4 linked regions of the Homo sapiens genome follow. The protein of the gene in region 4 interacts with the protein of the main gene of each other region in a pairwise test. Each region holds a gene or a part of one and is shown on either strand. Other genes may lie near its edges. The genes, in order: TASOR2, TTPA, THAP4 and SCAMP1.

What was found.
Region 1: the proteins of SCAMP1 (region 4) and TASOR2 interact in binary tests that used the Homo sapiens proteins (3 or more experiments, as listed by UniProt).
Region 2: the proteins of SCAMP1 (region 4) and TTPA interact in binary tests that used the Homo sapiens proteins (3 or more experiments, as listed by UniProt).
Region 3: the proteins of SCAMP1 (region 4) and THAP4 interact in binary tests that used the Homo sapiens proteins (3 or more experiments, as listed by UniProt).

Annotation. Positions count from the first base shown.
Region 1 is NC_000010.11:5,757,797-5,764,240, reverse strand, and holds the end of TASOR2 (protein TASOR 2), read right to left. Parts: intron 5,355-6,444; coding exon 5,249-5,354; intron 2,952-5,248; coding exon 2,770-2,951; intron 1,710-2,769; coding exon 1,595-1,709; intron 1,213-1,594; coding exon 1,209-1,212; 3' UTR 501-1,208; downstream 1-500.
Region 2 is NC_000008.11:63,058,965-63,062,071, forward strand, and holds the end of TTPA (alpha-tocopherol transfer protein), read right to left. Parts: coding exon of another isoform or gene 3,027-3,107; exon of another isoform or gene 2,462-3,026; coding exon 2,288-2,461; 3' UTR 524-2,287; downstream 1-523.
Region 3 is NC_000002.12:241,606,133-241,613,173, reverse strand, and holds part of THAP4 (peroxynitrite isomerase THAP4), read left to right. Parts: intron 1-6,700; coding exon 6,701-6,860; intron 6,861-7,041. UniProt on the Homo sapiens protein: Heme-binding protein able to scavenge peroxynitrite and to protect free L-tyrosine against peroxynitrite-mediated nitration, by acting as a peroxynitrite isomerase that converts peroxynitrite to nitrate.
Region 4 is NC_000005.10:78,412,600-78,419,640, reverse strand, and holds part of SCAMP1 (secretory carrier-associated membrane protein 1), read right to left. Parts: intron 4,122-7,041; coding exon 4,023-4,121; intron 3,101-4,022; coding exon 2,992-3,100; intron 867-2,991; coding exon 738-866; intron 1-737. UniProt on the Homo sapiens protein: Functions in post-Golgi recycling pathways. Acts as a recycling carrier to the cell surface.

The sequences.
Region 1 (6,444 bases), on a different chromosome or scaffold from region 4:
GGTCCAACCTGAAAGGTGCATATTTCAGGCAGATAGATAGGTGTTTGGCATCTTATAACTGCTCACTTTCCTTTTCCTTAGTAATCTGAAAGTAATTCACTGTACTGAATAGTTAATGGTTCCCTTAATAGACTCTTGTCCTTGGAAAAATAAAATGAAATGACTGGGGTTCTATTAGTAACTGAAAAATTGTCAACAATTAAAACTCTAAAACCTACTCATGAGAAAATAAAGCTCTTTTGTTTAGGAATAATAAAAGCCGACTTAATGACTTCTGAAAGAAGTAAGTGTCCCTGTAAAGGCCAGGTGAAACTGCCATTCTTTAACCTGTTACTCGGTGTACTTGACTGCGGAAAGAACCCAGAAACAGAACAGGCCAGGCCCAAAGGATAGAAGTGTAGGTTTCCTCTGGAAGCTTACTGTTCTGCTAAATGACCTAAAAATTGCTAGAACACTCCAGATAAGTCAATTTCTGCTATAAAAATCATTGCAGAAAGAGATTATTTTTAGTTGTCTTTATTTAAAAAATGAAACACATTAGTTACAAAAACCGTTGCTCCAAATAGATACCGTGTATCTTACAAATGTTTTTTGCTTGGTTTTGAGTGTTTACTGTAGAAATTTTCAATATCATAAATAAATGATTATTTCTTTCTCAGAAAGCTGATTTTTGTAGTGTAGTATTTACAAATACCGTAAGTGAAAAATGATAGTTTATAAATTTGTACCATTTAGGAAAAAATGTTTTATGTAGTGTTGTTTGTGTAACAGCAAATAAAACCATTTAAGATTATAGTTTTTACAAGGGTGGTAAAACCTTTAAAACAGAGCATAATGTGCATCGTATGCCTTTCTGACATTAGCATGCAAAAACAAAGCTATTTGTTAAAATAGACTTATTTTTGCTCCAACTAAGTAAACATGTAAAATTATTTTTAATAAGCTCAATAGCTTAGAAGGCATCTTGTTTAAAATGAAAATAATTTAAAACAATATCTAGCACTGCAACCCAAAGCTAACAGACAACTGCAATGCCACTGTGACATATTTCAGCAAAATATAAAAAATGAAAACTTTCCAAGTTGTAGAACATTGGTTTTTCAAATGTAAGACTGTTCACATGTGTATTCACATGTTCACAAGTTTTCCAAAGGGAAAATACTAATTTTTTATTGGCATCATCCATATCCAGGCAGGCTGTAGTTGAGTCACCTGAAGAAACACAAAATTGATAAAGAACTTCTTAAAATAATACGAACAAGAAATATTTTATAAGCGGGATGCTCTAATGGGGAAAACGCCTATGCATTCTAAGGTTACATTATGTTCTGTACTGACGATCCAAGTTAACAGCAAGTGAAAATGCACATTAGATAAAATAGGTAATTTTAGTAGATGGTTACTTCATTTAGTGATAATTTAGGAATTCCTATTTATGCCAAATAGCAATTCCACCCCTAAACAAACACTTTAAATTTATAGCATGAAGTATGTAAACAACAGTTTCCCAACTGTTTCCCTTAGACACAAATGTCAATATTTGCCATCAACAACTCCAACTCACATGGGAAAGTTACATAAAAAGTGTTCTTACCAATAGCTACTCCTAAATGGAGCTGCTATTTTTTCTATGTTTTCTATAAAGTTATTTACATCTGTAACAAGGATTCCACTATTTTCAAAGACTTCTCTGGGGATAGTAGGCTTGTCTGTTAAAAAAAAAAAAAAACAACTTTTGGTTAATATAATTAATGTACTTTTATATAACAGGACCTGGTTTTTTATTTTAAAAAATCTGTGGAACTTCCTCGTGTGAGGGGTAGGGGGAGAAAAGGTGTTGGGTTCCAAATTAAGAAAAGATTTGAAGCTTTGGAAATAGATGCCTCCATCGGGGGTGGTGGTTAAAGTACTGAAAAAAAATCCCTGAAAAATGATAACTATGGTTCTTTACGTAAATTTTTCTTAACACTTTTTTTTTTTTTTTTTTAAAGATAGATAGGGTCTTGTTCTGCCACCCAGGTTACAGTGCAGTGGTGTGATGACGGCTCACTGCAGCCTCGAGCAATCCTTCTGCCTTAACCCAAGTAGCTAGGACTATAGGCACACATCACCACACCTGCCAACTTCTGTAGAGATGAGGTCTCGCTAAGTTGCCCAGGCTGGCCTCAAATTCCTGGGCTCAGTGATCCACCTGCTTCAGCCTCCCAAAGTGCTGGCATTACAGGCGTGAGCCACTGTCCCTGGCTGCCCCACAAATTTTTTAAAAGCAACCTCTGCCTCCGGGGTTCAAGCCATTCTCCTGCCTCGGCCTCCCAAGTAGCTGGGACTACTGGCATGAACCACCACACCTGACTAATTTTTGTATTTTTAGTAGAGATGGGGTTTCACCATGTTGGCTAGGCTGGTCTCTAACTCCTGACCTCAAGTGATCCGCCCGCCTCGGCCTCCCAAAGTGCTGGGATTACAGGTGTGAGCCACTGCACCCAGCCCCAGTATTGATTTAAAAAATAATACGGTATAACTACTTATACTGTATTGAGTATTATAAGTAATCTAGAACTGACTTACATACATAGGAGGATTGTGTAGTTACCTGCAAATACTACATTTTATATAAGGGCTTCAGCTTCAGCAGATTTGGGTGATTCTGGTATCCATGGGATGCCAAGCCATTTAGATACCTGATACTCTTCATCAGGTATCTAACTTTGACATTCCTAGAGCTGACCAATTTTGGCATTAACTGAGTAAAATGCGCCTGTGAATTACCTGTTAGGAGGACAGCAAACCTGGCATCAATATGCTGAATTTGCAGGTTTAGCAAACATTTCAGAATTTCTGCTTTTGTTGATGATCGAGAGTCACACTGGTGATAATGAAGCAATTCAATGATATTTGCACTCTGAAATGACTTCAACATTATGTTCTTCTTATGTGCAGTTGAATCCACTCTGTGAAAGATACATAGGCATATTAAAATATTTTTCAGTTTTATTCTTAGGACTTTTTCTTGCCTTCAGTTTAACCATTCAAACTCATGAGTTCCTCTGCCTTTCTTCTTGACGTTCTTTTTCATGACACACTTTGGTTACCTCAAAACATCACAATTGTACCTACTCCTTTTGTAAATGTGGATTTTAAACATGGGCCTCATTCTAAGAGGGACATCATGCATCTACCTACGACCAATCAAGCCATGTGGCTTGGCAAGCCTTTCATGAATTTCGAGTGGGCCTTATTGCGTTGTATATTTGTAGAGCAATGCACATCTATACTTCTCATACCTTGTGGGCAGATAATCGCCAACTTCATTAAAATTAGGTAGCAGCCAGAATTTTCTTGGTTTCTTGCTTCCCTGAAAATTCTATCACTACTAGGAAAATGTGTTAACTCAGTATGTTTAAATTTTTAGCATTTCTGTCTCTGCTCGACTCCCGTCTCTCTAGTTTTCATCACTTACATTCTCATGCTTGTTGGAGAAAACCCAAATCACACCCATTCCCATAACCCTAGTGATAATCACTCTTAACATCATGAATTAATTTCCTTTCACTTTTTCCTGTATAAATTTTTTATGACATCATACTGAACATAGTTACATGATACCAACTTTTATGCCATCCCTCTTTCTATGAATAGAAACTTTTTACATGCTTCTATTGTGTAAGTTTTGGGTGGGCATTATTTTGTATAAACTTTAAAATATTTAACTGTAGTCTGCATATCTCCCTCCTAGAGATGGAACTGAGGTTGGTTTTGCAATGACTGATAACCACCTAGAATTTTGGGTAAATTCCACAAAAGGTCAAAGGATATGAAGAGTTTTCTAATGAGTTCTCAATAATACATAACGCCTGTTACATAATGCCAGAGTGGTATAATATGAAGAGCATACTGCAGCGCCAACAGCAGTGAGTACGGGCATGTACCACATAATGATGTTTCAGTCAATGACGGACCACATATACAATGGTGGTCCCATAAAATTATACTACTGTAATTTACTGAACCTTTTTTGTGTTTAGACACACAGATACCACCATTGCATTAAATCTGCCTACAGTATTCAGTACAGTCACATGTACAGGTTTGCAATCTAGGAGTAGGCTCTACCATATCAGTTTGTGTAAGTACACTCTATGTCTGCACATAGACAAAATCGTCTTATGACGTTTCTCAGGCTGTATCCCCGTCGTTAAGTGACATGACTTTCTCTACCCAAAGCCCTAGAAGTGCTAGATTGATTTATGCTTATTTTATAGGTGTGCTGTGGTACATCAGAACCTTAAATGTGCTTCTCTACTTACCGAAGTTGACGTTTTTCCCCTCAAGTGCTGGTTACTGAAGTCCGCTGTGAATGGTCATACCCTTGACCTGCTGAAGCCTTTGCACCCTCCTTTCCTGCCAAGGAAACCTCTGTGCTCCTTCTCTCCTTTGCTAGCTCCACTTCAAGAGAAAAGCTTTCTGAGATTCTGTTCCTCAAAGGTCACATACAGCTAACAGTCGTTTCGTCTTTCTGGGATTGAAACCCAGCTTCATAACTTACTACTTGTTTGACCTTGGTCATGTTTGTTATCTACTCTGCTTCAGTTCTGCATTATAAAAGTGAGGATTTGCTATCTAGCTCCTGGGGATGAAGTCTGAATGAAAATGGATGCACCTAACAGTGCCTGAAATCCTTATTTCACAAGGGCTTGTCAGGTCTGCTTTTCCAATTGGTCCTGCTTGTGAGAATGTGGAGGAATCTCTCAGCCCCAGCTCTCTTCAGCCAAGGAATCAAACATGTATTTTTTTCTTTTATAAATTACAGCTTTAGACTTAGTGAAGTTTGCGTATTTATAAGCCTCTTCTTTTAGGGTACAACTGAATTAAGGATAGATTATGGTCTTAATTTTTCCATTCTCCTTAAAGTGGTGGCAACTTATAAGTATCCAAAAAAGCATTAATGGTACAAGTTCCATATATTTTTTAAAGTTTGTAGTAGTAGGGCTTAAATAGAATATGGACATTTCATGACTGCTAAGTTTGACTCCCTTACTTCTGTTAGTCTAGATAAGTACATGCCTCATACTGTTGGCTACGGTCACAGCACATAGCTTCCTTCATTGAATACAGAGCCAGCAGCCCTCATGCTCTTTACTGATGAAGGCCATTCCACTGCAGCACTAGGCTAGAGCCCATGGAACATGAGGCGTTTCTCTGCTACCCCAGCAGGGCAGGAGGAACCATACACACAGCAAGTCCTTACCTTTCATCTTCTTTTAGCTTTTTATTTTCCCTGTAGTGAAGCAACCACTTCCATCTTCCATTTCCATTTAGTTTTTCCAGGATTTTGATAATTTCCTTCAGTTGAACTACAAAACAATAAATGTAGCAAAAGAAGATGACAAGTTTAAGGTACTTTTGGCTCATGCCAAGCCCAGTGATAATTATTTGTAAAACAAGAAAAAAACAGACTAAGACCCATGGTTGAGTACACACCATCACTGTCACTTATGTGGTTGGGCAGCATCCTGCTCTCACAAGCCCCTCAGCCTGGTCCCACCTGCTCACACTATGGTGGGAGATAACTCTGTAGACACGAACACAGTGGAGTGGTCACCAGCAACTAGAGTTCTGTGTACAAATTGTGTGACAGAAGAGAAGCAGGAGGCCCCGATGCAGTAGAGAAATGAAGTTTCTAAATACAGAATCCTTTTTTTTTGAGACAGGGTTTCGGCTGTCACCCAGGCTGGAGTGTGGTGGCATGATCTCAGCTCACTATAGCCTCAACCTCCTGGGCTCAAGTAATCCTCCATCCTTAGTCTCCTTAGCTGGGACTACAGGCACACACTACCACAGCTGGCTAGTATTTTTATTTTTTGTAGAGATGGGATCTCACTATGTTGCCCAGGCTGGTCTTGAACTCCTGATCTCCAGGGATCCTCCTGCCTTGGCCTCCCAAAGTGTTGGGATTACAGACGTGTGCCTACAAATATTTAAAATCCCAGGTTCTGTGTAGAAGTCACACTGGTTAAGGTACATGCTGCTTTTGATCTAGAAGTGGTATCACTTCCAATGTGATCAGAGCCGGGGCAGGTTTTATACATAAAAGTGCCCTGAGAGAAGTAAAGTATGAGTTTTCAAGTAGATGATTAAATAAGCTGACTTAGTAGCCATTTTTTAGATTTTTGTGACATCAAGATGGTAGGGGTGTTGACATCAGAAATGGAGAAGGTTGACTTTAAGCAAACAATTTAATATGGAGCTGCTCTGACTTGGCAAGTGAAGAGACTAAATATAATAAAATCCTGAATTTGTGTTACTAGGAGCTTAGCTGCACTACCGAGAGGGAGGGAACTCAGAAGCAAGTGTGGTGGTAAGAATCAGTTAAAAGAGGTGAAAAGCATTGCTATAAGAGAATCACTGTATGAAAAGAGCACAGCAGACAGCAGAAATTATGCC
Region 2 (3,107 bases), on a different chromosome or scaffold from region 4:
TATGCTTTTATTTTAAAATACTTTAAAGTGTTTTTTAGAAAACAGGCAGGGTCCAGTTTTTTTTTTTTTTTTTTTTTTTTTTTTTGAGACGGAGTCTCGCTCTGTCACCCAGGCTGGAGTGCAGTGGCGGGATCTCGGCTCACTGCAAGCTCCGCCTCCCGGGTTCACGCCATTCTCCTGCCTCAGCCTCCCAAGTAGCTGGGACTACAGGCGCCCGCCACTACGCCCGGCTAATTTTTTTGTATTTTTAGTAGAGACGGGGTTTCACCGTTTTAGCCGGGATGGTCTCGATCTCCTGACCTCGTGATCCGCCCGCCTCGGCCTCCCAAAGTGCTGGGATTACAGGCGTGAGCCACCGCGCCCGGCCCAGGGTCCAGTTTTTTAATAAAAATTATAATGTTGTTAGCTTCCCAATACTAAGTCAAAATCAAAACACGTTCTCTAAAGAACAACCACAATTACTTTCAATTTTATCATAGATATATGTATAATCCTAAGTATCAGCTCACCTGATTAAACTAATTTTCTTATAAAGAAAAACACCCTTCACATATCCTTACATAAAGATACTATTAATGTATATGATTAATGTTGAAACCTAACTAGCTGAACAAATGTTCAACAGATTTTGGACCCCATATTCTACATTTTCAAGTTTATAACAAAATTAAGAAATTATAAAATACTAAGTATAAAACTTATGTCATAAATTGAGGGCTATGTTGAATTTGAAAGCTGAGATGATATCTTTCTTAATAAATGAAATATTATAAACTGCAGTAGAAACAGTACATCTTTACCGGTTATTTATTTATTTATTTTTATTTTTATTTTTTAATTTTTTTTGAGAACACATGGACACAGGAAGGGGAACATCACACACCGGGGCCTATTTATTTATTTTTGAAATAGAGACAGGGTCTCCCTGTATTGCCCAGGCTGGTCTAGAACTCCTGCGCTCAAGCAATCATCCATCCAGCCTCGGCCTCCCAAAGTGCTGGGATTACAGGTGTGAGCTGCCACACCCAGTCTTTACCAGATGTTTTTTTAAGTTAATATAAATTGCAGGATTTGATTAAAATATTCTGATACAATAGTCAAACTCATATTATTTTATGCATAATCTGAAAAATACCAGATGTAATTGACAGTAATTTTTTAAAATGTAAACATTTCCTTTCCTTTGTGTAGTTACGTTATTGTTAACTAAAAACAGTCCATGTATAAGACAAGTAAGTATGATTCCATCCCTTTCCGTGTAGTCATAAGAATGACCATAAGCAAAAGTTAAAATTACATTCTTGATTTGTTTAAAAATGCAAAGCAGATATTGAGAAGCCATCAACTGTGCCTGACGTATTTTCTAAATTATTTTTGTTAATCAATTACATCAACATGATTTCACAGAGACCTAAAGATGCCACATAGAGTAGTATGGCATATAGACTCCTCAGCTGAAAGTTTCTATCACGGCCAGGCGCGATGGCTCACGACTGTAATCCCAGGACTCTGGGAGGCCGAAGCAGGCAAATTACTTGAGTTCAGGAGTTTGAGACCAGCTTGGCCAACGTGGCAAAACCCCATCTCTATATAAAATACAAAACTTAGCCAGGAGTGGTGGTGTGCACATGTAATCCTAGCAGAGGTTGCAGTGAGCTGAGATCTCACTACTGCACTCTAGCCTGGGCGACAGAGCAAGACTCTGTCTGAAAAAAAAAAAAAAAGTTTCTATCGTGTTAATATACTAAAATAAAATTTCCCTGAGATGAAATGTCTTGCTGGTCCACAGGAATAACCATAAAACTCTATTCAGATTTTAATTATAATGAATTATAATTTAATCTGACATCCACTTAAAACAAGTGTTAATTTTTTTATCATTAGCTGACTTGTGCTAGTATTTTTAAGCGGAATATTTCTAAATTTTTTTCTAAACCAATTTAATCAGAGAACTTGTTTAAAATATAACTTTCTAGAAACATACAAAGATGCACATGAGCAGCTACTTTAGCAATAACTTTCATGTTCTCTTCAAGTACAAAATCGCCGATTTTTATGCTCTTAAAATGTACTGACATTTAATTACTTCAAAAGTAGAGAAAAAAGCATTTAAAAAGTAAAAAATCTTTCCAAACACCTGTGTTGCTCATGTCAGAAGATTTCTACATTTTTAAAGTTCAGGCAAGCATTAGTTTAAAAGATTTGCTCCTTTTCTTTCATTCATTTAACCAGGTTGGATATCACTCATGTATTTTTAGTTAGGAAGCCATTCACATGACATAACTTCTCATTGAATGCTCTCAGAAATGCTGCTGAGATAATCTTCAGACTTCATTATAAAATTTGTCCATTCCTGACAAATGTCCTCCATGGAGAATTCTTCACCACCATATTCCAGAGGAAGAATGTCTGGGAAATGCTGAAGCAAGCTTTGTTTGTAGTTGTTCCCATGCATGTGAATCTGAAATAGCCAAAACACTTTAGAAGGAAACCGCATTAGATGCATTTCCAGTGGAAAATCAACCTCATAAAACAAGGTATTCTAATAACTTCTAAAATGGAGTGTATAAATAGATACCACATCCTTTATTCCTCTGGTTATGAATCTAATAATTTTACTTATGTTTAGGTTGTATTACTGTGGATCTAATAACCTTACTGTTTCTTGGATTTGCATTCTTATAACTGCATAAAATTTATAAAAAGTTATTTTCCTCTTTCATAAGTAAATTTTTAAAGATTAAATAAAGTTATTTTATAAATTCTATTCCCTTATGTGCAAGTGATTCTTACCAAACTAATACCTTGGGACTATTCTATACACGATAAAAATGTACTAGCTGGTACTAATTCATATTAAGTAGAAGCATATATCTGAGCACACAATTAAATCTATGAGAAACAATTTATATGGTACAGTCGATGGATACTGTTAGTTAGTATAAAGTTAAGAGACAGCCGGGTGCAGTGGCTCATGCCTGTAATCCCAACACTTTGAGAGGCCAAGGCAGGTGGATTACTTGAGCTCAGGAGTTCAACACCAGCCTGGGCAACATGGCTGGTACAAAAAAAATACAAAAATTAGCTGGGCGTGGTGGTGCAGGACT
Region 3 (7,041 bases), on a different chromosome or scaffold from region 4:
TAGAAACAAAGCTCCTTGGGTGCCAAGGGTTGAAAACTCCATTCCTGCACTGTCGAAAAGGTCTAGAGAGTGAGTCTCTTATGTAGTTTAATATTTTCTAATAGCTACATTAAAAAGGTAAAAAGAAACAAGTGAAATCGATTTTAATAATATATTTTATTTAACCCGATATTATCTAAAAATTATTTCAACAGGCAACCACCCATACTATAAGATTATTGAATTATTTGAAGACTTTTTGGACTGAGTTTTCGGAATCTAGTTTGTAGCTCGCACTCACTGCACGTGTCAGTGAGCCAGCTCACGCGCCTGCAATCTGGAAGGATCGCTGTGGCCAGCCGTAGCATCCTTGCCACTCACCTTCCCTCCTCATGCGCCTTCTACGTGTGACTCTAGCGTCTTCTGCCACAGAACGCAGCTGTGGAGAAACACTGACCCACGTTCTGTCTCTGTAGATGTGTGTGTTCTGCACCTTTCACAGAAATGGAATTGCAGAATATGTGCTCTTTTGAGCCTGATTGCTTTCATATGGTGTGTTGTCAAGGGCCATTTGAATTGCAGCTTATATTAGTGCTTCATTTTTATGGCCAAATAACATTCCATTGTCTGGATATACTGCAGTTTGTTTACTCATTGGTTGACGGACATCTGTGTTGTTTCCACTTTGGGGCTGTTGGGAATGGTGCTGCTGTAAACATTCATGGGCAGCGTCCTGTGGGGACAGGTGTGTCATTTCTGCTGGGAGTGCATGTCTCCAGGAGTGGCAGTCCTGGGCCACTGCTCCACACTTAACCTCTCAGGCACATGCCAGATGGTCTTCACTAGGCTGTGCCAGTTCACGTCCCCATCAGCAGTGTGCCAGGCGTTCCCGTCCTTCTAACTTTGTTTCCATTTCTCTATCTTTTGTCTTTTTTTTTAACTCATTTCTGTCCTCTGTGTTCCGCTGTGTTTCCCGGTGTTTGTTTCTCCCTGTGCTGCTTCCAATCTCCACTTCATTTGGGTGGTGGCTTGATTTTTTTTCTTTTACTTTCTCGACTTCTGCCAGGTCATGTTTCACCTTCTCCTCTTTCCTTGCCGTTTCTCTCCTGAGTTCTTACATGTTTAGTTAGTGGTCTTTCTTCATGGAGCAGCTTCATTCAACTACTCGGGAGGCTGAGGCGGGAGAATCACTTGAGCCCCAGTGGTCTAGGCCGCAGTGAACCGTATTCATGCCACTGCACTCCAGCCTGGGTGACTGAGCAAGACCCTTTCTCTTAGTTTCACCTTTGCCCCATCAACATTTTGCAGTTTGTATGTTTTGCTGCTCTTGTTCACACTTGGTGTCTTGTCACCTTTTGTCCATCTCTGAACTCAGGCAGTGTCTTAGAGTCCATTAGTCCATTGCTGGAGAAGCAGAAGGTCTTCAGGAGCAGCATGCCTTTCTTTCTTAATTTTTTTTTTTTTTTTTTTGGAGACAGAGTCTCACCCTGTCACCCAGGCTGGAGTGCAGTGGCACAATCTCGGCTCACTGCAACCTGTGCCTCCGGGGTTCATGCCATTCTCCTGCCTCAGCCTCCCTAGTAGCTGGTACTACAGGCACCCGCCACCACGCCCGGCTAGTTTTTTATATTTTTAGTAGAGATGGGATTTCACCATGTTGGCCAGGCTGGTCTCGAACTCCTGACCTCAGATGATCCACCCGCCTTGGCCTCCCAAAGTGCTGGGATTATAGGCGTGAGCCACTGCGTCCAGCCGGCAGCACCCCTTTCTTTCGGAGTGGCGCATTACTTCTCTATGGCGGGTGGTGGGTAACCCTGCATGGAGGCCAGCCTGGGCCTTCAGCACCTGGGCGAACACCTGGGGTGTCCTGGGCAGACGCGTGGGGTGCCCTGGGCCTGCTGTTTGCAGGAGCTCCCTGTGGCAGAGCGGGGGCCAGAAGAGCCTCCAGGCTTCCCAAGTCCAGGGCTCCCCACTCCGCCCCAGGCCTCTGAGCCAGGCCAGACCCTGAGGCTTCTCAGGGGCCACCCCCCCAGCTCCCAGAGGCCCCTCCTGTCCTCCAGCGAGGCACTGACCCACCACTTCTCACAGCATCCGTATGTGTGTTTTGGTGGCTGTGGGTTGTATCTGTGACCTATTTTCCCTCAAAATCAAGTTCAGGGAAAAGGTTTTTTCGTTATTTTTGTTTTTTTTAATTCTTGGGAGGGAAGGTGATAATATTGTTACTTACCTGAGAGTCCCCCTCGGAGACCCCCAGAAGCTGGTTTTAAGGGAAGAAAGAGTAAGATCCCTTTCTGTGTCTCTGTCTCTGGCCCCGTCTCTGGCCCCATCCCCGTGTCTCTCTGGCCCTGTCTCTCTGTCTCTGTGTCTCTGTCCCCGTCCCGTCTCTCGCTGTCCCTGGCTCTGTCCGTCTTTCTTCCCCATTTAAGGAGCGCCTCCTCTCCGGTCCCCTCTGAGGAGCGCTGGATGGAGGACAGGGCCTCCCGGAGAGGACTCCACGGTGGGTGGTGGGAGGGAAAGACCAGGGGGAGGCAGAGGCTGCCGGTGAGAGGCGTCTGCCAAGTAGATGAGGGGCCGGGAGAAGACCCCGTGGCTGGGGAAGCAGGAGTGGGGAGGGCGGGGCCTCCGGGCCGAGGGGCGCGGTCGCTGTGGTCTGTGGAGGGGCTGGCGAGGCTCCCGCCTCTGCTCTTGCTGGAGCTCTTGAGTGAGCCCTGTGACGCCTGCTAGGTGAGGTGGCAGCCAGTGAGCGCGCCCCACCGCCCAGCGCCGCCCAGCCTCCGCCCTGACTCCTCTGCCGCTCCCCAAACAGGGCGCGGTGGCGTGACCCTGGCGCTGGGGGGCGAGCGCGGCCCTCCCGGTCCCGCAGGCGCAAGAGAGGGCGGAGATGCGGCGCCTGAGGCGGGGCTGCGCTTCCGGGGCGGGGCCGGCGGAGGCTGGAGGGGGCCGCCCGGGAGCAGAGGCAGGACTTGCGGCGCGTGCCCCTCACCCTAGCCCGGGGCTGTCCTGCCTCGTGGGGAGTGTGAAGGCCATGCCCGGCGCCGCGGCCCTGGTGCCCCTGTTCCACTGGGACCCTGGGGGGCGCCGCCAGGCCCCTTGGCCTCTTCCTCGGGGCCCTCGGGACCCAGGGGCCGGTGGTGGCCGTGCCGGGGACTCGGGCGTGAGGGGTGGAGATCGCGGCCCCGGTGCAGCAGCTCAGAACCTGGACTCTGGATCGCTGCTCCCCAGCGCCCGGGGTGCCGCTTCCCACAGGGTTCAGCTCCCATGCAGGCTGCGCTCACCAGTGGAAGTGGGTCCACCCGGTCCCAGGAGAGCCAGAGCCCCGTGGCAGTCGCTGTGGGGTGTGCTCCGCACAGGCCAGAGAGCCGGCCCAAAAACCTGAGGTTTGCAAAGCCTCTTTCTTTCTTTTTTTTTTTTTGAGAAAACGTCTCTGTCGCCCAGGCTGGAGAGCAGTGACACGACCTCGGCTCACTGCAACCTCCGCCTCCCGGGTTCAAGCAATTCTTGTACCTCAGCCTCCCGAGTAACTGGGATTACAGGCGTGTGCCACCACGCCCGGCTAATTTTTGTATTTTTAATAGAGACAGCGTTTCACCACGTTGGCCACGCTGGTCTCAAACTCCTGACCTGAGGTGATCTGCCCGTCTCGGCATCCCAAAGTGCTGGGATTACAGGTTCAGTGAGCCATTGCGCCCGGCCCAAAGCCTCTTTCTTTTCAGTGCTGAGCTGGATAAAGTCTACCAAACTGAAAGGTCTCCAAGGCTATAGCTGGCTGTCTGAGAAATTATGGTGTTTGTTTAGCCCATCTTAGGACTTGGGCTATCCCAGGTGACTGAGTTTTGCTGTTTCACACCTCCCAAGGTTCTTCTCATTCTTCCTTTTCTCCATTAATGGTAACTTGTCTTCTCAATTGCTCAGGCCAGAAACCTCCGTTACCATCTTTTCTTACGTGTTTCACATCCAAACCATCAGCACATCCGGGTGGCTCTGCCTTCAAGATAGATCCAGAAGCTAGGTCCTTTCCACTGCCTCCACCACGGCCACCTGGCCCAGGCCACCCTCCTCTGCCACAAGGGTTTTTGCCATTGCCCTCCCTGGCTTCCTGTGGTTGCAGTCAGAGACCTCGTCCCTCCCACTCAGCCTTCTCGAGGGCTTCTGTCTGCTCAGAGTCAAGGTCACGGCCCTTCCGAGGGGTGAGGATCTCCTTCCCCTGGCCACACTGGCCTCCTGTTCCTCTCCAGCAAGACCAGGCCTACGTACCCAGGACCTCCGTCTCTGGCACTTCCACCTGGTCTGCTCTTCTCCAGGGTAGCTGCAGGGACCCTGATCCCCTGCCTGGTCTGTGCACACTTCTCAGGGAGGGTGTCCTTGTCCCTTTTGGGTAGGTTTTCACAGTGCCCCAACAGCCCTGTCTCCCTTTCTGCCTCATCTCCTAATGTACATTCAGTTCTGCATCATTCACTCATTTCTTGTGTATTGTCTGCCCTCGCTAGGATGTATGCTCCGTAGGGATGTATGACTGTTCCGTCAGCTTCTCCCTGGAAGAGTGTCCAGCACGTTGAATGATGAAAGAATTGATCAGCTATGATAGATCACAAGCCTCGTTCCAGAGGCCACACATTGGATTCAGAAGCTTCTATTCCTTATCTCCGTGAAAGATTGCAACGAAAATCTTGATTTAAAAATTCTCTTATTGTCTAATTAGGAAAGTTTTATTGAAGTCCAAATATTCCCATCCTCACCTTCCCACTTTTCACCGGGAGTCTGAGGAGGAAATACTGATATAAAAAATTTTTAAATCATCATTTAAGAAAAACAAAAAAGGAAATACTGAAAGACCACAGGCCAGTCTGGAAAAGGAGCGGACTCTCCCACTCTCCTGCTTCAGGTCACCTATGTTTGCCCTGTGCAGCCAGCAGGCAGAGTGCTCATTACCTGCTCTCCACCCTCGGTTCTCACTCTGGGCCCCAGGGCTCGGCCACTGGGCCAGGCCACATGTGCGGCCCTCCTTGGTTCCAAGCTGTTCTTGGACGTGGTCTCCTCCACCCCCAGAGCCTTTGCTTTCCTTTCCCCCGATCTTCTTTTCCCAGACTTCCTGGAATTTATAATCCAAAGGTTGTGTAATTTCAGAAGCTGCGATGGTTCCAAGAACTCCTGTCCCCGTCAGTCCGTCTTCTGCTTGCGCGGGCCTGGAGGAGACACTGGGGGTCAGTCCTGATCCCGTCCCCATCAGTCTGTCTTCTGCTTTTGCGGGCCTGGAGGAGACGCCGGGGGTCAGTCCTGATCCTGTCCCCGTCAGCTGTCTTCTGCTTGCGCGGGCCTGGAGGAGACACTGGGGGTCAGTCCAATCCTGTCCCCATCAGTCCGTCTTCTGCTTGCGCGGGCCTGGAGGAGACACTGGGCATCAGTCCGATCCTGTCCCCGTCAGTCCGTCTTCTGCTTGCGCGGGCCTGGAGGAGACACTGGGGGTCAGTCCTGATCCTGTCCCCGTCAGTCCGTCTTCTGCTTGCGCGGGCCTGGAGGAGACGCCGGGGGTCAGTCCTGATGTGCAGGCCGGTCTCTGTGCTTGGGCATCTTTGGGCTCCGTAGATGAGGCTTGTGCGGCCACAGAGCTGCTTCTGTCCCTGCTGCTGCTCCTGGGTGTCAGTGTCCGTTCTGTCAATTGAAGCACTGAGACTTGAGGGTTAAGCAGGCCTGGGAAGCAGGTCTTTGGGATTGCCTCTGGGGATCAGTCCTTCTCTTCCAGCGCCCCTGATGGGTAGCATGCAGTGGGGCTTTCCTGTGGTCCCCGCACAGGTCTCCCTTAGAAAATGAGTAAGAGCAGGGCCCGTGCATCCAGCCAGGGTGAGGGTCATGTGAGTGAATCCTGAAAAGCCGCTCGGGAGCACCCAGTCCTTGCTGAGCGAGGCAGGAAGCAGGGGTCCCTTTGAGTTCGCCCAGCAGAACAGCCAACCCAGCGGCCCCTCCCTGCTGTCCTGTCACTGCACCCCCACCTCTGAGTTCCAGGCCTGTGGTGTCATCCTTCACACTTAGTGGGATGAGAGACTGAACCCCACAGGAGACCTTCTAAAGGGGTCTCCTGGCCACTACACAGGCTGCTGTGAAGCCCCAGCCCCTCCTCAGGGAAGCGGGGTCTTACTTCCCTTTTAAACCCCGCCTGCCCCTGGGCCCTCACACTCTGGCTGCTCCGAGACCCTGCATCCCCTTTCATTTTCTCCCTGATGCTCTTTGTCTCCTTCACACACTCTTCACGCCAGGGCACCGTGCCTCCCGTGTGAGCTGCTTTCAGCCTTGCTGTAGGACATGGAGGACCCCTGAGCTATTTGGGGTCACAAGGAAGCTGTTAGTATGTGGTTCTCATATTCTTAACTGTACAAGAAAGCAAAAGCCCCTTGAGGTCCCTCAGTATCCCTTCCCACCACCTGCACCCCACAGGTGGAGAAATTGCCTGCTTTTAGGGAGATAGCAGTGTAGGCCTCTTTGCTTGCGCCCTGCCTGGCCCCTGTTGGATCTCTTTTCTCTGCAGGAACTGCAGAGGCTTCTGAAGCTGGATCTTTCACTATGACATTTACAGTTGCTTGACCATTTTCTCCCGCTCTTGACAGGTCCCCCAGGATTAGCTGTGGCCACCAGAAGCAAGCGTCGATATGGAACGTGCATTCTGCTTAAAGCTCAGCAAGGCATGGTTGGAGGGAGGCCACTGATAGTCTCATTCTTTTGTCCTCAGAGCCCCCCAAGATGAACCCAGTGGTGGAGCCACTGTCCTGGATGCTGGGCACCTGGCTGTCGGACCCACCTGGAGCCGGGACCTACCCCACACTGCAGCCCTTCCAGTACCTGGAGGAGGTTCACATCTCCCACGTGGGCCAGCCCATGCTGAACTTCTCGTAAGTTGTCTCCCTCCACCCCACCCTGCTTGACTCATGGGCCGCCTAGGTCTCTGAAAATAATTCCAGACTGATCAAAGACAAAGGCCAAGCAGGAAGGTGTAAAAGGAACTTGTCCATCTATTTCAGAAAGGTGTCCTCTTGCCTGAATGTGCAACTGAGACACAGAGTGGTAAAAATG
Region 4 (7,041 bases):
AATAGCTACCTCCCCTTCTGACAGGGTATCAAAATGAGGCTGAGACTACTGTTTGGAATAAAAATGAAACAGAGAGTAAGTGGGAGGTCTGTGCACACAGAGTAAAACTGTTAACGGCTTGACATTTTGTTTCAGTATTCCATGAGTTATTATACTCAAAGTGATGTAAGCATCAGAGCCCCAAACGTATATTCTAATGTTCCGTTCAACAAAATGTCCTGTATTAATTAAGCACTTTCAATAATAAAAGTATCGCAATTGAAAACAAAAAGTAAACTGTACTCAAAGCTATAAAAAGAACACTTAGTTTATGTAATAATTTTATGCCCTTTTAAAAATAGCTAAAACGCCTACATTTAACAGAATTCTTTTAAATGGCCTTCCTCTGCATAAAATTAGTATGCACTATTTTTTCCAAGCAAATCATGTCTAGATAACATCTTTCAAGGAAAAAGAATCTTATAAAATTTTACCCACATGACAGAGAAGTTGTCTTTTCCTCAAAAGAATGCCAGTTCTCAACATACAAGTTTTTCTCAGCCAAGGACTTACATTGTCACATATAGTACAATTCTGAAGTACCTAAATAGGATATGTTTCACTCTGAAATCATGATTATTAAGCTTTATCTATAGAAAAAGAAGACTGGTTTGCTATACTATCCTTGAAATAAAAATGCGGATTTTGACAACAAAAATACAAATTCTAAGCAAAGATGTAAATTGTTGTATACTCACACATCCACAAGTAGTACATAAGCTTTACTGTCTTTTGGAATTCTACAGGAATGTCTACAGAAAAATCCTGATAGAAACAAGGTCCGACAGGAAAATTGCTAGGAAGAGGTGGCCAATTATTTTTTCTACCTGTAAATTTTTTTTAGAAAAAGAAAAGGTTATTTATATTATAACAAATGTGATATTATTTTTTGTTTCATAATAAAGAAAAACTCTATTATGTTAACAAAAGTTCAGAAAAACTGTAGAACTATATCTTTGTATTCCTAGAACTCTGAAAGACAAGCTTTAGATTTTTAAAAAATTTTCTCAGAATATCATCACCTTAGAGCACATTAGATAGTAAAATAATTTTCCAGTGTCATATCATACCATGTTTAGCAGGAACCATTTATGTACAGAAAAAACAAGAAACAAAAAGAAAGCACATATCCAGTGCTTCTACCCTAAAACAGATTTATTTCACAGTCCAAAGAGTCTGGCTGGCATGAAAGGGCCATCCAGTTTTTAAACTTCAATTTTCTCCTCAGCATCTTAAATCTTCAAATATAATTCTGTTATAATTCCTATCTCAAGTGGAGAAAGACTAGCTTCTAATTTTTTCAAGTTTTCTGTTAAGTCCAAGATTAAACCAATACCAAAGAATCAAATTTAGAATACTCAAAATCTGGGAAAAAATAATATCCAAAAGATACATGTACGAAAACCCTACAACAAAGAAAACATGAAACAGTCATGATAAGGAAGCTGAAGAATTATAGAACCTTTAAAAATGCAGAGAAAAACAAATTCAAACTGTAAAGGGAAAAAAATGTGTCTACATAAAGAAACCAGATTAAAAATAAGACTTGAGAAATGGTGGGGGAAATAAAAAATTAAAATAAAGAAGTCAAAACATGAAAATAGCGGGTAAAAACAGCACCTAAGGCCATTTCCCGATTTTAGATGTTATATCCCACAGTTTTTAAAAATTCAATTTTACCTACTTTTCCCAGACCAGGGTAATTTTTATAGAAAGAACAATAACCTATTTCTGATTCTCCCCAATGAGTCTCCTGTGTTCCATTTATCATACTATTCAAATTTCATATAGTTCATTTCTCATACCAATCTCATACTATTTGAGAAGCGGCAGTGAATACTCGTAAAGAAGAGAGGCTCTGGAACCAGAAGTGGCTAGCCACTTACTGGCAAGGTCGCCTTGGGCAACTTACTCTCTCCTCCGAGCCTTAGTTTCCATATCTGTAAAATGAGAATAAAAACTCTATCACCCCTCACAGGATTGTATTGATGATTTAAGTATGAGTTAAGAGGGGAAAAGTACTAAAATGTGCTAACATACTGCAGTCTAATTGTTAATTTCCTACTCTTTGTTACTGTCTTTACTAACATAACTCTCATAGAAATAGTTTGTATTTGCCAGTGCTAAAGAAATAGGATGGATTTTAGTTACAGGTACTTCAGAAACATTGGTCCCAGTTCAACTTTTAGTTTCTCCTTCTATAGATGCTACCTCTGATGCTGCAAGCAAGAAAATGACCCAGGATAAATGTGTTCTCATGAGGCCCTAGACTTACACATTCTAAGTTAAAAAGAAATAGTTCTGTATATTGTTATTGTTCTAGCTTTGCATTGCATCACTATCCCAGACATCCTAACAATGACTTATCTAGCTCTTTTATCTCTTCTTACTCAGAGACTGCTAGCTTTCCCTAAGAGACTCCTTTGAAGTGCTTTGGCAGGCACAAACTTAATAGAATTCACTGCAACAATTCACCACTTATTTCTTTGGCATCATATGAATACCTTAGGCTTCCAATTTTTCTAACATGATTTGACAAAATACTTGCGAGGACTGGGGCAGATAATCTGAAATTAACCTGAATAAATCAGGTAAAAGTCAAATGTAGGGTACATGCAAATGTACTCATAAAGAGTCCACAGAACCAAGGAGGGCCTAACTGCAGAATCAAAGGCTCCTGGCCTCAGAGTAAGCAAAAATTATCATATTCACATTCATTTTCTGTGTGATGAGGCTAACACTGTTCTAAGCTATCAACAAAAGACTATGCAAATCAGCCAAGATTAGAAGGCTACAGAGTATCAAACAGGCAATCTGCTGTGTCTGATCTCCTTGTTAGAACAGGAAAACAGGGTAGGGTTTTATCCACAGGCCAAATGACCTAGGAGCTAGTATAGACATAATGTAAAGTATTTAAAAGTTATTTTTATTTCAAATTTCTTTGGATACTACCATGTTGACTGAGGTTTTGCATTTCTCGTTCCCGACGATCTAATTCTGCGGCTTTTCTTTCTAGTTCTTCCTGGCGCTTAAGAAGTTCAGCTTGGGCCAATGCATGTTCCTAAATAAAAAATATCAATATGTGAATAGACTGTCAGAAGTATAAAATACTTTAACATTTATATGCTAACTCCTACTTCTCTACTATGAGAGAAACCTAATTCAAACACACTTCCAAAGTACAGGAATTTACTGAAGATCATAGTTACAGAAAATATTATGAGGATATTTGGTCCATTTGGTCTTTGGGTTCCAGAAACTCTCAGTGGGAATGTTGGGTCCATTAGGAGAGGAAAACTTCTCTTAGTAAAAGTAGTCACAATCTTTAGGTAATCTGGAAAATGAAATTAAGATGACCTCTATGCCTAAATGAGTGAAGAACAGAGGCAATGGGAACAGTTGAGGAAAATGAACAATAGAAAAAAGGGCAACTGAATTGGCTCCTATTAATCAGATTAAATGATATATAAGGCCACCAATGCAAGAATATTTTCTAATATCTTAAATGTTATAGGAGAATGAGGTCAAAAGATGTGATTAAGAAATTCTTTATAACTCAATTTGCCCTTACATGCTATCAGGCATCTTATTAATCTCCTTTCTTCTCAGATTTTTGCCATCTTCTACCTCCTAACACTGTTATTTTACCATTGCAACGCTCTCCCAATAATATCTATTATTCCATCATTTTTACCTTAATGGTAGTGTGCATTAAAAAGTGGGACCAAAGGCAATAAAAATTTATCCACTGAGATGATACATAAATTCAATAATTCCTAATAATGGAATAAAGCAAATGGTATAAGCTGACAAAAAGAGGAATGAGTATTTGAAGGGTGACAAGACAGCAAATCCAGACTTGAAAGTGAGTTAAAAATTAAGCAACAGAAATGTAACCATATAAAGATTTATTTTGCTCTGAAAGCAAATGTTATTGATATTATAATGGCCAATATGAATTTATACAACTAACATGAACTAACCTTTGCAATCTGTGTATAAGCTGGATGTTCCTCTGTTGGTTTCATTATTGCTGGTTGTGTATTGGGTACATTAGGCATCTTCACACCGCCTGGTGGAGGCTAGGAGGATTAAGAGAAGGAAAATTATGTAACACAGAGATCCAACTTTAACTTCTTTCAAAAAGTATAACACCAATAAAATGAAAAATCCCAAAATCTGCATCTCTTCATTCCCTGCTCTCTCATAGTCAAGTGTGTGGCAAAGAGCTGCTTAAATTCTCCATCTCCATTTTCTCCAACTCATTCATTTTTCAACTCTACAATCAGACTGCTACTTATAACACTATATGACAAACACTCTCCTCCAGGATACCGTATGTTAATAGAGGCCAGGCATGGTGGCTCATGCCTGTAATCCCAGCACTTTGGGAGGCCAAGGCGTGTAGATCACCTAAGTCAGGAGTTCAAGACCAGCCTGGCCAATATGGTGAAACCCCGTCTCTACTAAAAATACAAAAATTAGCCGGGTGTGGTGGCGGGCACCTGTAATCCCAGCTACTTGGGAGGCTGAGGCAGGAGAATCACTTGAACCGGGGAGGTGGAGGCTGCAGTGAGCCAAGACTGTACCACTGCACTCCAGCCTGGGCAACAGAGCAAGACTCCATCTCAAAAAAAAAAAAAAAGAACTTTTGAGTTTAATAGTAAAATACAGATAGAACCAGACAAAAGAACTACACCAAGGTTTACTGCCAACTCTTCCCTCTTGAGAAAGCTACATGCCAGTGCTCTGAAGAGTATACAGGAAAGTTCTTGGTAGAACCCCACTAAATTTAAAAGAGTAAAAGGGAAGGCGTAAGGAGAGAGAAAATAAATTACCCAACTTCCACTTTGCCAGTGAGGATCAGTAGTGTCTGAAAGCTGCAAGATCAGGAAGTAGACATCTACAAGTCCATCAATGGGGGATTGGTTAAATTACTGTATATACATACAATGCAGCCATGAGAATAAATTAGCGATAGAAGAATGTCTTTTAAAATACTAAATAAAATAAAGCAAGCTGGCCGGGCGCAGTGTCCTATGCTTGTGATCCCAGTACTTTGGGAGGCCGAGGCAAGTGGATCACAAAGTCAGGAGTTCGAGACCAGCCTGGCCAATATGGTGAAACCCCATCTCTCCTAAAAATACAAAAATTAGCCAGGTGTGGCGGCGGGCGCCTGCAGTCCCAGCTACTTGGGAGGCTGAGGCAGAAGAATCGCTTGAACCCGGGAGGCGGAGGTTGCAGTGAGCTAAGATCGCACCACTGCACTCCAGCCTGGGAGACAGAGCAAGACTCCATCTCAAAAAATAATAATAATAATAAAATAAAAATTAAATTAAAAAATAAAGCAAGCTACAGAACAGTCTGTATATGACCTTTTTTTCAACAGACACAGATTTATACATGCCCCCATAAAATATCTGGGAAGTCTCGGCCACCTGATATCAGACGGACTTGCACCTGTTGTTTTATATGCCTCTGTATTATTTGCTTCCCTCGACACATGCACCATATACTACTTTAATAAAAATATATTTTTAAAGTACTCTTTAGAATGACCATAAGAAAAAAACAAAAAACAAGGATGGGAACATGAAAAGAACAATAGAAGCAAAAACAGTAACAGAAAAGAAAAGAAGAAAGGAAAGAAAGAGAAGAGGGAGGGAAGGGGGAGGTCATAAATAAGAAAAATATAAAAAAGAAAGAAGCTGCACAAGGACGTTCAAGGATCTTAAGAACTATTAAAACCAGAAGACACCACCAATATATAGCAGGATTTTACTCTGACACAGCTAACAGCAGCCCTGAAAAGGAAGCCACGCATAACCAAAGATATAACTGTAGTTCAGCTGATTCTAAAATGCATATACAAAAGGCAAGAACCGGCTGGGTGCAGAGGCTCACACTTGTAATCCCAGCACTTTGGGAGGCCAAGGTGGGCAGATCGCCTGAGCTCAGGAGTTCGAGACCACCCTGGGCAACATGGTGAAACCTCGTCTCTACTAAAATACAAAAAATTAGACAGGCATGGTGGTGTGCACCTGTAGTCCCAGCTACTGGAGAGGCTGAGGCATGAGAATCGCTTGAGCCTGGGAGGCAGAGGTTGCAGTGAGCCCAGATTATGCCACTGCACTCCAACTTGGGCTACAGAGTGAGAGTCTATCTCAAAAAAAAAAAAAAGGCAGGAACTAAAAACAGGTCAAACCATTTTGAAGAAAAACAAAGTAGGAAGACCTATGATATCAAGGCTTATTATAGAACCACAGTAATTAAGAGTGTAATACAGATGCAAGGACAGAGAAGTGTACCAATAAACAAAACAGACACAGAAACAAACCCACACAAATGCAGAAACTTGATATCTAACAGAGGTGTCACTACAAAACAGTGAAGAAACAATGTGTTAATCAATAAACGGTGCCTGGATAACTGGTTACTCATATAGGAAAAAAAAACATTTCTTACTTCGCATCATATACAAAGATTAATTCGAGGTAAATTCATGATCTAAAACTGAAAAAGCAAAACTTAAACACTTTCAGGGAAAAATACATGTGAATATTTTTATGAATATTTCTTGAGCTTCTAGAATATGAACTCTAGAAATACTGTGTATTTTGTTTATGACCTATCCCAAGTACCCAAAATAGTCCCTGAAACAGTAGATGCTCAGTAAGTATCTGTCAAATTAAGAATGGAAAACACACACCACACAAAATTGACGAATTTAATTACACTGAAATTTACAAAAAGTAAAAAGTCAAATCATGGACTAGGAAAAGATAGTTGTAATGCATATAACAGAAAATTGCTACCCAGAATATATAAAGAATTGTTACAAATCCATGAAAATACAAACTAATCGAAAAACTAGCAAAAGATCTGAACAAGCAATAGAAAGAGGTCAATAAACATGTGAAAAGAGGTGTAACAGCACTAGTAATCAAGAAGTGCAAAAACAATCATATATCATTTCAAAACCATGAGATAGAAAAACAAACT